Homo sapiens: one gene and its partners. The protein of the gene in region 3 interacts with the protein of the main gene of each other region in a pairwise test. Each region holds a gene or a part of one and is shown on either strand. Other genes may lie near its edges. The genes, in order: CASP6, FLT3LG and LAMP2.

What was found.
Region 1: the proteins of LAMP2 (region 3) and CASP6 interact in binary tests that used the Homo sapiens proteins (3 or more experiments, as listed by UniProt).
Region 2: the proteins of LAMP2 (region 3) and FLT3LG interact in binary tests that used the Homo sapiens proteins (3 or more experiments, as listed by UniProt).

The regions. Positions count from the first base shown.
Region 1 is NC_000004.12:109,693,389-109,697,040, reverse strand, and holds part of CASP6 (caspase-6 isoform alpha precursor), read left to right. Parts: intron 1-554; coding exon 555-631; intron 632-2,340; coding exon 2,341-2,516; intron 2,517-3,652.
Region 2 is NC_000019.10:49,477,117-49,480,768, forward strand, and holds part of FLT3LG (fms-related tyrosine kinase 3 ligand isoform 1 precursor), read left to right. Parts: intron 1-1,792; coding exon 1,793-1,931; intron 1,932-3,181; coding exon 3,182-3,360; intron 3,361-3,435; coding exon 3,436-3,483; coding exon of another isoform or gene 3,484-3,504; intron 3,505-3,652. UniProt on the Homo sapiens protein: Stimulates the proliferation of early hematopoietic cells by activating FLT3. Synergizes well with a number of other colony stimulating factors and interleukins. Required for the development of B cells, and dendritic cells (DCs).
Region 3 is NC_000023.11:120,462,770-120,466,421, reverse strand, and holds part of LAMP2 (lysosome-associated membrane glycoprotein 2 isoform A precursor), read left to right. Parts: intron 1-3,652. UniProt on the Homo sapiens protein: Lysosomal membrane glycoprotein which plays an important role in lysosome biogenesis, lysosomal pH regulation and autophagy.

The DNA of each region.
Region 1 (3,652 bases), on a different chromosome or scaffold from region 3:
GCTGAGGCGGGTGGATCATAAGGTCAGGAGATTGAGACCATCCTGGCTAACATGGTGAAACCCTGTCTCTCCTAAAAAATACAAAAAATTAGCCGGGCGTGGTGGTGGGAGCCTGTAGTCCCAGCTACTCGGGAGGCTGAGGCAGGAGAATGGCATGAAGCCAGGAGGCGGAGCTTGCAGTGAGCCAAGATCAAGCCACTGCACTCCAGCCTGGGCGACAGAGTGAGCCTCTGTCTCAAAAAAAAAAAAAAAAAAAAAACTTGCCTGAGTTATTTTCCTTACTCTGTTCTATTAAATGTTGACAGGCTTTTGCATTTGTACTAACATTTGCATAGTAGACAACAACACTCTAAATTGAATCGGCTGTCATTATGATTAAATCCTTTCCGACCATGGTGAATGAAGGGAAAACCACCATTGTTATATTTCATTTCTTTTCTCCTAAAGAAAGCAAATTTATGTGTCGTTAAAATGTGTATAGATTCTTCCAAAGTAAGGGTATTTGACAACTTTGAAAAGTTTATAGGCTAACATTTCATTTAATATACCACTAGGTTTTCAGATCTAGGATTTGAAGTGAAATGCTTTAATGATCTTAAAGCAGAAGAACTACTGCTCAAAATTCATGAGGGTAGGTAGTTTTGCTATCATATAGTTCATCTTCCTCTAATGAAACCGAGTCCTTTATCCTATCTGTAAAGACAGGTACAAGTAATTACTTGTGTGACAAAAAAAGTATTAATTTAGCACAGGTTACAGGTTTTGGGTATGCTGCTGTGTTTCCGTTACCCAGCACATTTAGAGACCCTTGCAAATAATTATGCCTCTAAAGTTTATATTTAGCATACCACTAGTTACAGTCTCTTGTAGAAATGAATGAAATGACCCCTTCAATTGGCAGTAAAAGCCTAAAATGCAAGTACTACAGGTGCTGGGCAGTCAACAGGCTCATTTTCTCATTGACTCCTTTCATGCCTCATTTTCTCACTGGTTTCCAAATAGTGTTGGTTTACATACATTACCTCCTTTAATTCTCACAGCGTCAATAGGGGGTAGGTATTCTAATTATAACAACCTATATTATAATCATCGCTGCATGCCAACCATTATATTTGCATAATTACTTTAAACTTTCTTCAGAGCTCTTCTTTAAACTGCACATCATTCTAACTTTGGCTGCTTTTACCAGCTTTTCTACTTTGCTCAGAAGCTTTGGAGGACATCAGTCTCATGGCACCGCACCTGGCTTTGAGTACTCTTTTGGAAGCTCTAAGTGCTATAATCTTTTTTTTTTTTTTTTGAGATGGAGTCTCGCTGTCCGCCCCAGGCTGGAGTGCAGTGGTGTGATCTCAGCTCACTGCAGCCTCCACCTCCTGGGTTCAAGCAATTCTCCTGCCTCAGCTTCCCAGGTAGCTCGCCCCCATGCCCAGCTAATTTTTGTATTTTTAGTAGAGATGGGGTTTCACCGTGTTGGCCAGGCTGGTCTTGAACACTGGCCTCAAGTGATCCACCTGCCTCGGCCTCCCAAAATGCTGGGATTCCAGGCGTGAGCCACTGCGCCTGGCCCTAAGTGCTGTATTCCTATAGTGAAAGTGCAGCAATGCGTGGGGAGCTGTTGAGCAGCAGTTTCTGGGTCTTTCCACTCTGCTCTAAGGTCTCTGCTGATTCAAGGAAATTTTTAGTTTATTGCCAAAATAACTTGGATCTTAAGTGAGATTCCCTATCGTAATCCCTTTATGTTTTCCACATCATTCTGTGTTTTAGAAAGGCTAATGAAATTTGGTCAAACTCTATTACTCTGAACTTTAATAAATTTGGATTTTTTTAAAAAAATAAGATACAGTACGGTATATTGTTTGATTAAAGACTAAGTTGTTTCATCACAGATATTTTACACTTATTAAAGAGTAGGCCGGGCATGGTGGCTCATGCCTGTAATCCCAGCACTTTGGGAGGCTGAGGCGAGGTGGATCACCTGAGGTCAGGAGTTCGAGACTAGCCTGGCTACATGGCAAAACCCCGTCTCTACTAAAAATACAAAAATTAGCTGGATATGGTTTCAAATCTGTAATCCCAGCTACTTGGGAGGCTGAGGCAGGAGAATCGCTTGAACCCGGGAGGTGGAGGTTGCAGTGAGCCAAGATCGCGCCACTGCACTCCAGCCCTGGGCACCAAGAGTGAAACTCTGTCTCAAAAAAACAAAAAAGACAAAACCACAAATTTTCCTCCTCCCCAATCATGTGGATGTAACTTTATTCTTGTGTTAATAAACTGAATTTTTATGTGTAGATAACAAGCATCATATTTTCATTTCTATATTCTCTTTTGGGTCCTTTATAGTGTCAACTGTTAGCCACGCAGATGCCGATTGCTTTGTGTGTGTCTTCCTGAGCCATGGCGAAGGCAATCACATTTATGCATATGATGCTAAAATCGAAATTCAGACATTAACTGGCTTGTTCAAAGGAGACAAGTGTCACAGCCTGGTTGGAAAACCCAAGATATTTATCATTCAGGTAAGACTGAGTACATTATCATCTTAATTATAAAGTCTGTCATTCTGAACATGTGATAAAGGTCTAAAAGCCAGTTTTGAAAGTAACTTTCTCCAGTAATTGGACAGGCCGTTTTTGAATTCTGGCCAATCATAGTTGCACTTTGAGCTGTTAGTAATAATTCTTTGACACTCTCATTGTCTATATTACAAAATAACAGCATTTGGATTGAGATTTGAAGTGACTCACAAAGTAACCAATGTGCTACTCCCTGTCCGAGCCTGATACCAAGGAGAGCCATTGGAAAGCGTACCTGCTGATTGAAGAGTGCCGCACAAGGCAACCTCATCAGACTAGGTTTGCTTCTTTGGGAGGTGGAGAGCATATAAACCAGTGGAAAGAATGGAAAAATAAAGCCTTCTAGTCTTATCCTGTCTCATCCCTTTCACATTGCCCCTTAAACCAAGATTGTTTCCCCGCTGCCAAATTGGTTTTAGGGATAAAAGTATTTTTTACAGGCGTGATGGCTCACACCTGTAATCCCAGCACTTTGGGAGGCCGAGGCAGGCAGATCACCTGAGGAGTTCAAGACCAGCCTGGCAAACATGGTGAAACCCTGTCTCTACTAAAAATACAAAAATTAGCTGGGCATGGTGGCAGGTGCCTGTAATCCCAGCCATTCGGGAAGCTGAGGCATGAGAATTGCTTGAACCTGGGAGGCAGAGGCTGTAGTTAGCCGAGAGCATACCACTGCACTCCAGCCTGGGCGTCAGAGCGAGACTCTGTCTAAAAAAAAAAAAAAATTTTTTTTTTTGCATGAATATTACTTGGCACATCATTAACGATTTTTTTTTTTTTTTTGAGATGGAGTCTCGCTCTGTCCCCCAGGCTGGAGTGCAATGGTGCAATCTCGGCTCACTGCAACCTCCGCCCCCAGGTTCAATTATTCTCCCACTTCAGCCTCCCGAGTAGCTGGGATTACAGGCACCTGCCATCATGGCTGGCTAATTTTTGTATTTTCATAGAGATGGGGTTTCACCATGTTGGCTAGTGTGGTCTTGAACTCCTGACCTCAGGTGATCTGCCCGCCTTGGCCTCCCAGAGTGTTGGGATTACAGGCGTGAGCCACTGTGCCCGGCCAAAGATTTTGAACTACA
Region 2 (3,652 bases), on a different chromosome or scaffold from region 3:
TGTCTCAAAAACAAAACAAACAAACAAAAACCTCTCTCTGAGGGCTGGGTGCAGTGGCTCACACCTGTAATCCCAGCACTTTCGGAGGCCAAGGTGGGAGGATTATTTGAGCCCAGGAGTTCAAGACCAGCCCGGGTAACACAGTGAAACCTCATCTCTGCACAAAAATAAAAATAAATTAGCCAGGCATGGTGGTGCCCACCTGTGGTCCCAGCTACTCAGAAGGCTGAGGTGGGAGGATCACTTGAGCCCTGGAGGTCGAGGCTGCGATGAGCTATGATTGGGCCACTGCACTCCAGCTTGAGCGACAGAGCAAGACCCTGTCTCAAAACATAGAATAGGCCGTGTATGGTGGCTCACGACTGTAATCCCAGCACTTTGGGAGGCTGAGGCGGGTGGATTGCCTGAGCTCAGGAGTTCGAGACCAGCCTCGGCAACGTGATGAAAACCATCTCTACTAAAATACAAAAACAAAATTAGCCAGGCATGGTGGTGGGCACCTGTAGTCCCAGCTACTTGGGAGACTGAGGCAGGAGAATTGCTTGAACCCAGGAGGCAGAGGTTGCAGTGAGCCGAGATCACACCACTGCCCTCCAGCCTGGGCGACAGAGCAAGACTCCATCTCCAAAAAAATAAAAATAAAATAAAAGCCTGGGTACAGTGGCTCACGCCTGTAATCCCAGCACTTTGGGAGCCCGAGGCGGGCAGATCACGAGGTCAGGAGTTTGAGACCACCCTGGCCAATGTGGTGAAACCCCGTCTCTACTAAAAATACAAAAATTAGCTGGGCATGGTGGCGCGCGCCTGTAGTCCCAGCTACTCAGGAGGCTGAGGCAGAATTCCTTGAACCCGGGAGGTAGAAGTTGCAGTAAGCCGAGATCGTGCCACTGTACTCCAGCCAGGGTGACAGAGCAAGACTCTGTCCCCAAAAAATAAATAAATAATAAAGTAACTTTGGGAGGCCGAGGCGGGCGAGTCACCTGAGGTCAGGAGTTCGAGACCAGCCTGGCCAACATAGAGAAACCCCGTTTCTACTAAAAAATATAAATAAATAAATAAATAAATAAATAGGCTGGGCACGGTGGCTCACGCCTGTAATCCCACACTTTGGGAGGCCGAGGCGGGCGGATCACAAGGTCAGGAGATCAAGACCATCCTGGCTAACACAATGAAACCCCATCTCTACTAAAAATACAAACAATTAGCCGGGCGTGGTGGCAGGCGCCTGTAGTCCCAACTACCTGGGAGGCTGAGGCAGGTGAATGGCGTGAAACCAGGAGGCGGAGCTTGCAGTGAGCCGAGATTGCGCCACTGTACTCCAGCCTGGGCAACAGAGCGAGACTCTGTCTTAAAAATAAATAAATAAATAAATATGGCCAAGCACGGTGGCTCATGCCTACAATCCCAGCACTTTGGGAGGCCAAGGTGGGCAGATCACCTGAGGTCAGGAGTTCGAGACCAGCCTGGCCAACATGGAGAAACCCCGTCTCTACTACAAATACAAAAAATAGCTGGGCATGGTGGTGGGCACCTATAGTCCCAACCACTGAGGAGGCTGAGGCAGGAGAATCACTTGAACCTGGGAGGCAGAGGTTGCATTTCACCACTCCAGCCTGGGCAACAGAGTGAGACTCTATCTCAAAAAAAAATTAATTAATTAAATAAATAAACTCTGAGAGCCAGAGCTCACTGGGCCCTGTTGCTGGGCATCGCCAGCAGGGAAGGGCCTTTGGCCTGCGGAGGGGCGGTGGGGGGATGACGTGGTGGTGACGTCTCCCTCCCCTGCTCCCAGCCCCCCCCCAGCTGTCTTCGCTTCGTCCAGACCAACATCTCCCGCCTCCTGCAGGAGACCTCCGAGCAGCTGGTGGCGCTGAAGCCCTGGATCACTCGCCAGAACTTCTCCCGGTGCCTGGAGCTGCAGTGTCAGCCCGGTAAAGGCTTCCAGGCACCCCCACTCCTTCCCCTCCTGTCCTCACGGCCGCTCCTCCTCTCTGCACAGTGCATCCCAGACCCCATCTTTCTCATATTGGTTGTGACAAGGGCAAGCTTATTCCTCTTTCTGGAGCTCAGTTTACCAATTTTTTTTTTTTTTTTTTGAGACGGAGTCTCGCACTGTCGCCCAGGCTGGAGTGCAGTGGCGTGATCTTGGCTCACTGCAAGCTCCGCCTCTCGGGTTCATGCCATTCTCCTGCCTCAGCCTCCCAAGTAGCTGGGACCACAGGCGCCCGCCACCACACCCGGCTAATTTTTTGTATTTTTAGTAGAGACGGGGTTTTACCGAGTTAAACCAGGATGGTCTCGATCTCCTGACCTTGTGATCCACCTGCCTTGGCCTCCCAAAGTGCTGGGATTACAGGCGTGAGCCACAGTGCCCAGCCTACCTTTTTTTTTTTTTTTTTTTTTGAGATGGAGTCTTGCTCTGTCCCCCAGGCTGGAGTGCAGGGGTGCTATCTCGGCTCACTGCAAGCTCTGCCTCCTGGGTTCACGCCATTCTCTTGCCTCAGCCTCCCCAGCAGCTGGGACTACAGGCGCCTGCCACCTCACGCGGCTAATTTTTTTTTTTGTATTTTTAGTAGAGACGGTGTTTCACCGTGTCAGCCAGGATGGTCTCGATCTCCTGACCTCGTGATCTGCCCGCCTCGGCCTCCCAAAGTGCTAGGATTACAGATGTGAGCCACCGCGCCCAGCCTATTGTTTTTTTTTTCTAAGTCGGAGTCTTGCTCTGTCGCCCAGGCTGGAGTGCAGTGGCGCAATCTTGGCTCACTGCAACCTCCATCTCCAGGGTTCAAGCGAATCTTCTGCCTCAGCCTTCCGAGTACCTGGGATTACAGATGCGCATACCATGCCTGGCTAGTTTTTGTGTTTTTAGTAGAGATGGGTTTTCACCATGTTGGCCAGGCTGGTCTTGAACTCCTGACCTCAAGTGATCCACCCACCTTGGCCTCCCAAAGTGCTGGGATTATAGGCGTGAGCCACCGCGCTCAGCCTATTCACTCATTTAATTTGTGACAGTCTGATGAGGTAGGTACAATGATTATCCTAGTTTTACAGATGAGCAAACTGAGGCACAGAGAGGCCAAGCAGCCCATCCAAGGTCACACAGCCAGTGGCAGCCAGGCCTCTCTTTCCTTCCTTACCCCAGCCCTTCTCCTTGGTCACCCAGCCTCCTCTTTCTCCCCAGACTCCTCAACCCTGCCACCCCCATGGAGTCCCCGGCCCCTGGAGGCCACAGCCCCGACAGCCCCGCAGCCCCCTCTGCTCCTCCTACTGCTGCTGCCCGTGGGCCTCCTGCTGCTGGCCGCTGCCTGGTGCCTGCACTGGCAGAGGACGCGGCGGAGGACACCCCGCCCTGGGGAGCAGGTGAGCAGGCTGGGAAGAGGGGGTGAGGGGGCCGAGAGGGTGGCCCACTTGTGGCTGACACTTTGGGGCCCACAGGTGCCCCCCGTCCCCAGTCCCCAGGACCTGCTGCTTGTGGAGCACTGACCTGGCCAAGGCCTCATCCTGGTGAGTCCTTCCTGGGCTATGGGGCCTGGACTTTGTGTCTGCAGGTTGGGAGGGTCACTAGGAGGCCATGGAAGGGTGGTGAGCAGTGGAGGGGCAGGGGCAGCTCTAGGTGCAGAAAGACCCCTCTGGGGCCAGGCGCGGTGGCTCA
Region 3 (3,652 bases):
GACTAGAACACATCTGACCAAGGCATCTGTTAATCAGTAGTTCCCTGCCAATTGAATCTGTGCACAAATACAACACTGTTATTGTTTTGGGAAAGTGAAAAAAATAATAGTTGTCCTACTTGTTGGCTTTCATGTCATTAAATTTTTTTTTGTTTTTTAATGAAAGCTTTTTTGTTTTGTTTTTACAAAAGCAATGCTTACTCACTGCAGAAAATAAACATGCAAAAAGAAGCACATAAAAGAACCCATCAGCTCATCTGCTAGTTTGCCATTTATTGATCAGGACTAACTAGATTCTTCCTCTTGGAAAATTTCCAAGATTGATTCCCTCCGCCTCCAAGTTCAGAGCAGGATTTGGAAAAGTAAATATTAATAATGTACCTAGATCTGATTTTTAAGAGGTTCCAGGATGAAATAGAAACCATTTTTCTATACAGCTGCATTTTCTGATGGCTCTTGGTTCAGTGTGGAGCCCAAAGTCCTCCCATATAGCTTTTTCTGTCAAGAATTTAGCAGTTGCTTGGTGGGTTTTGCACAAGTTACTTTTCTATATCAAAATGGATACCAATAATAGGTTTTTGAAAACTTAATAAATATTTGTAAAGTACCTAATATGTAGCTAAATCAATAAATATTTGTAAAGTACCTACTATGTAGCTAGAACTGTGCCTGGGTACTGTACGGAGTGCCAATGAAGGAGGACCTGTCCTAAATTTATAGTCTTATTAGCATTAGTGCTCTAGCTGTGCCAGTTTGACTTTGTAACTTTATAACTCTATCCCAGCTTCACCCATAACCTTTTAAAAACAGCAGCTTTAGAATAAGTACAGAAAAGGATTCTTAGAGGCTATATATTGGTCTTTTTCATAGAGATTAAATTATGCTGGTGTTTATTTGGATGAATTGTAACTGACCAGACAACTTTCCGAAGAGAAGCTATATGATTTAGAGGTGTTATAAAGTGGATAGTGGGTGAAAATCCTTTCTTTATATAATTGCCTAATTATGGTCCTTTTGTGATATCATAGATTTCAGGATTCTTCTGTGGTTATTGATTCTTATAACTAGCTTGACTTCTGTTTTTTGGTTTGTTTGTTTGTTTTTTTAGGGTTCAGAATTTTTTTTTTTTAGGTTTGAGGCTTTTCTGGGTGGGAAAAACCTCACAGAAATATTCTTAGTGTATGTTACTGGTAGGAGCCTCTCCCTTCCACACGTTTACTGAATGCCTATTGTGTCCCAGCCACTATATTAGGTGAAAGGGACAGAGGAATGGATAAGACAGATGAGGTTCCTGCTCTCATGGAGCTTACATTTTAATGGGAGAAGAAAGCTCAACAGATAAATAATATAATGTCAGATAGTGATAAACACTATGAAGAGGCCGGGCATGGTGGCTCACGCCTGTAATCCCAGCACTTTGGGAGGTCAAGGTGGGCAAATCACCTGAGGTCAGGAGTTCGAGACCAGCCTAGCCAACATGGTGAAACCCCATCTCTACTAAAAATACAAGGGCATGGTGGCCAGCACCTGTAGTCCCAGCTACTCGGGAGGCTGAGGCAGGAGAATTGCTTGAATCCAGGAGGTGGAAGTTGCAGTGAGCCGAGATCATGCCACTGTCCTCCAGCCTGGGGGACAAGAGCAAAACTCTGTCTCAAAACAAAACAAAACAAAAACACTATGAAGAAAATTACACAGGTAATGAGAAAGGAGAATGAGTAGATGATAGGAATGGGTGATGGTGGATGATCCTTCTTTATATTATGTGGTCAGAGGGCCTTCCGTTATCGGGTGACATTTGGGCAGAGACCTGGGTGTTGGCAGGAGGCCAGCCATGTGACCATCTGGGGAAATAGGAATAAATCTTATCATTTGCAAAATCTTAGGTTACTAGCCTATTTTCCACGCTTTTTTGTTTCCCCCTAGTTTTAGTCAAGTCTCTCCTATGGTAGCAGTCTCTAAGAGCAGAGACGATCTTATGTACTGTTACTTCCCATTGCCTACCTAGCATAGGGTCTGGTACATGGTTAACCCGTAGTGAATTTTTGTTGAAGATATTCATTGGTGGGCACTAGGGATATGGTGGTAAACTAGACTCATTTAGTCTCCTTTTTCTTCCATGAATTTTAAATGATGTTTTGCAAGAAGTTCTTTTGGATTGAAAACTTCAAGATCAGTGCTAAGCAGTACGGATAATTATACAGTAATTTACTAATGTATAATCCCATATAATAATGCTAGTTTCTTACCTGTACTCCTTCAGATATACCTCCGTAGTCTCGAAGGGGGTAATATGGAGAATTAGGAGTTCCTTGGTGAGGAGAGTTAGGTTTTCACAAAGTTAGGTTTTCTCTGAGAGAAAACAAGCACTAAGATTTTTCTATAGGCTTAACACATTTCATTTAACTGATAACTTTGATTTCGAGGTTCTGCCAAATTATTCTAGTTATAATAGAGATACTGTAAAGGACTGAAAAATTCTGAACCCTAAAAAAAAACAAAAAAAAAACGAAAAACAGAAGTCAAGCTAGAAGATAAGAAAGGACAGGCTTGTTAGTTTGTTAGTCATTGATTATCACATCTGATAGGGTTATAGATATTCAAATATGTCCCAAATACCAGATTAGTTTGTTAGTCATTGATTATCATATCTGATAGGGTTATAGATATTCAAATATGTCCCAAATATCAGATTGTCACATCTGATAGGGTTATAGATACTCAAATATGTCCCAAAAGAACAGCTTTCTTCCCCTATATCTTTGGGTAGATTTTGTCTATAACCAAGCATTATTTCGTAGCACTGGAGCTGATTTAAATGACCCTTGATGCAGGAAGGCTGCTCTTCTTTCTGTAGTGCAAAAGTATTCTGATCATAATTTCTTATTAAAGTGATCAGAGATCCCCTCAGACCCAAAAGTATACTTTATAAGTACTTGTTGGTATCCTGCTGTGCATTGTGAAAGAATTCTGGAGGTGTGCCAAACACTGCTCAACAATAAGCACTTTCCATTAGTTGAGTAGTGTTGAATCTTGTTTCCTTACCCACTCTTTGGCCTTAACAAATTAAGTCATTTTATAGCTTAAAAACATATTTTTATTAACTTTTAATACTCTTTTTCATGTGTTCAACATTCTTACTTTAAAATCATATTGCTTTTCTCCTTTAAGAAACTTACCAAAAGCAAGGGTATAAAGTAACTGAATGCAATGAGTGTACCTATTATTAGGAATTATAAAGGAGAAACAGTTAATCTGACTTAAACTTGTAGGAAAACCATCACTCTGAATAGAAAACAAAGATAAATAGGTACCGTATGCCTCTGTGTCCTGTATTTTAAAAAGACCTTTTGCTCAACATCATTCTAAATTCATGAGTTTGAGGACAAGAGTCCAGAATTTAATATGATGAAAGTAAACATAAAGCTAAAACTTGGGAAGGTTCCCTTTAGGTGCTGTGTTTACTAAAAAGGAGACTTGTAAATTGGTATCTAACTTGTTTGGCAAATTTCTTTTAGCTCTGAAGGGTTTATATGCTTTCAAAGAACCTATTGGAGAAATATGCACTATAATTCTAAACAAGGGTAACTTGCCCAAAGTCTCACAGCTAGGAAGTTGGACTGCCAGATTTGAGTTCTAGCTCTTCCACTCCAGG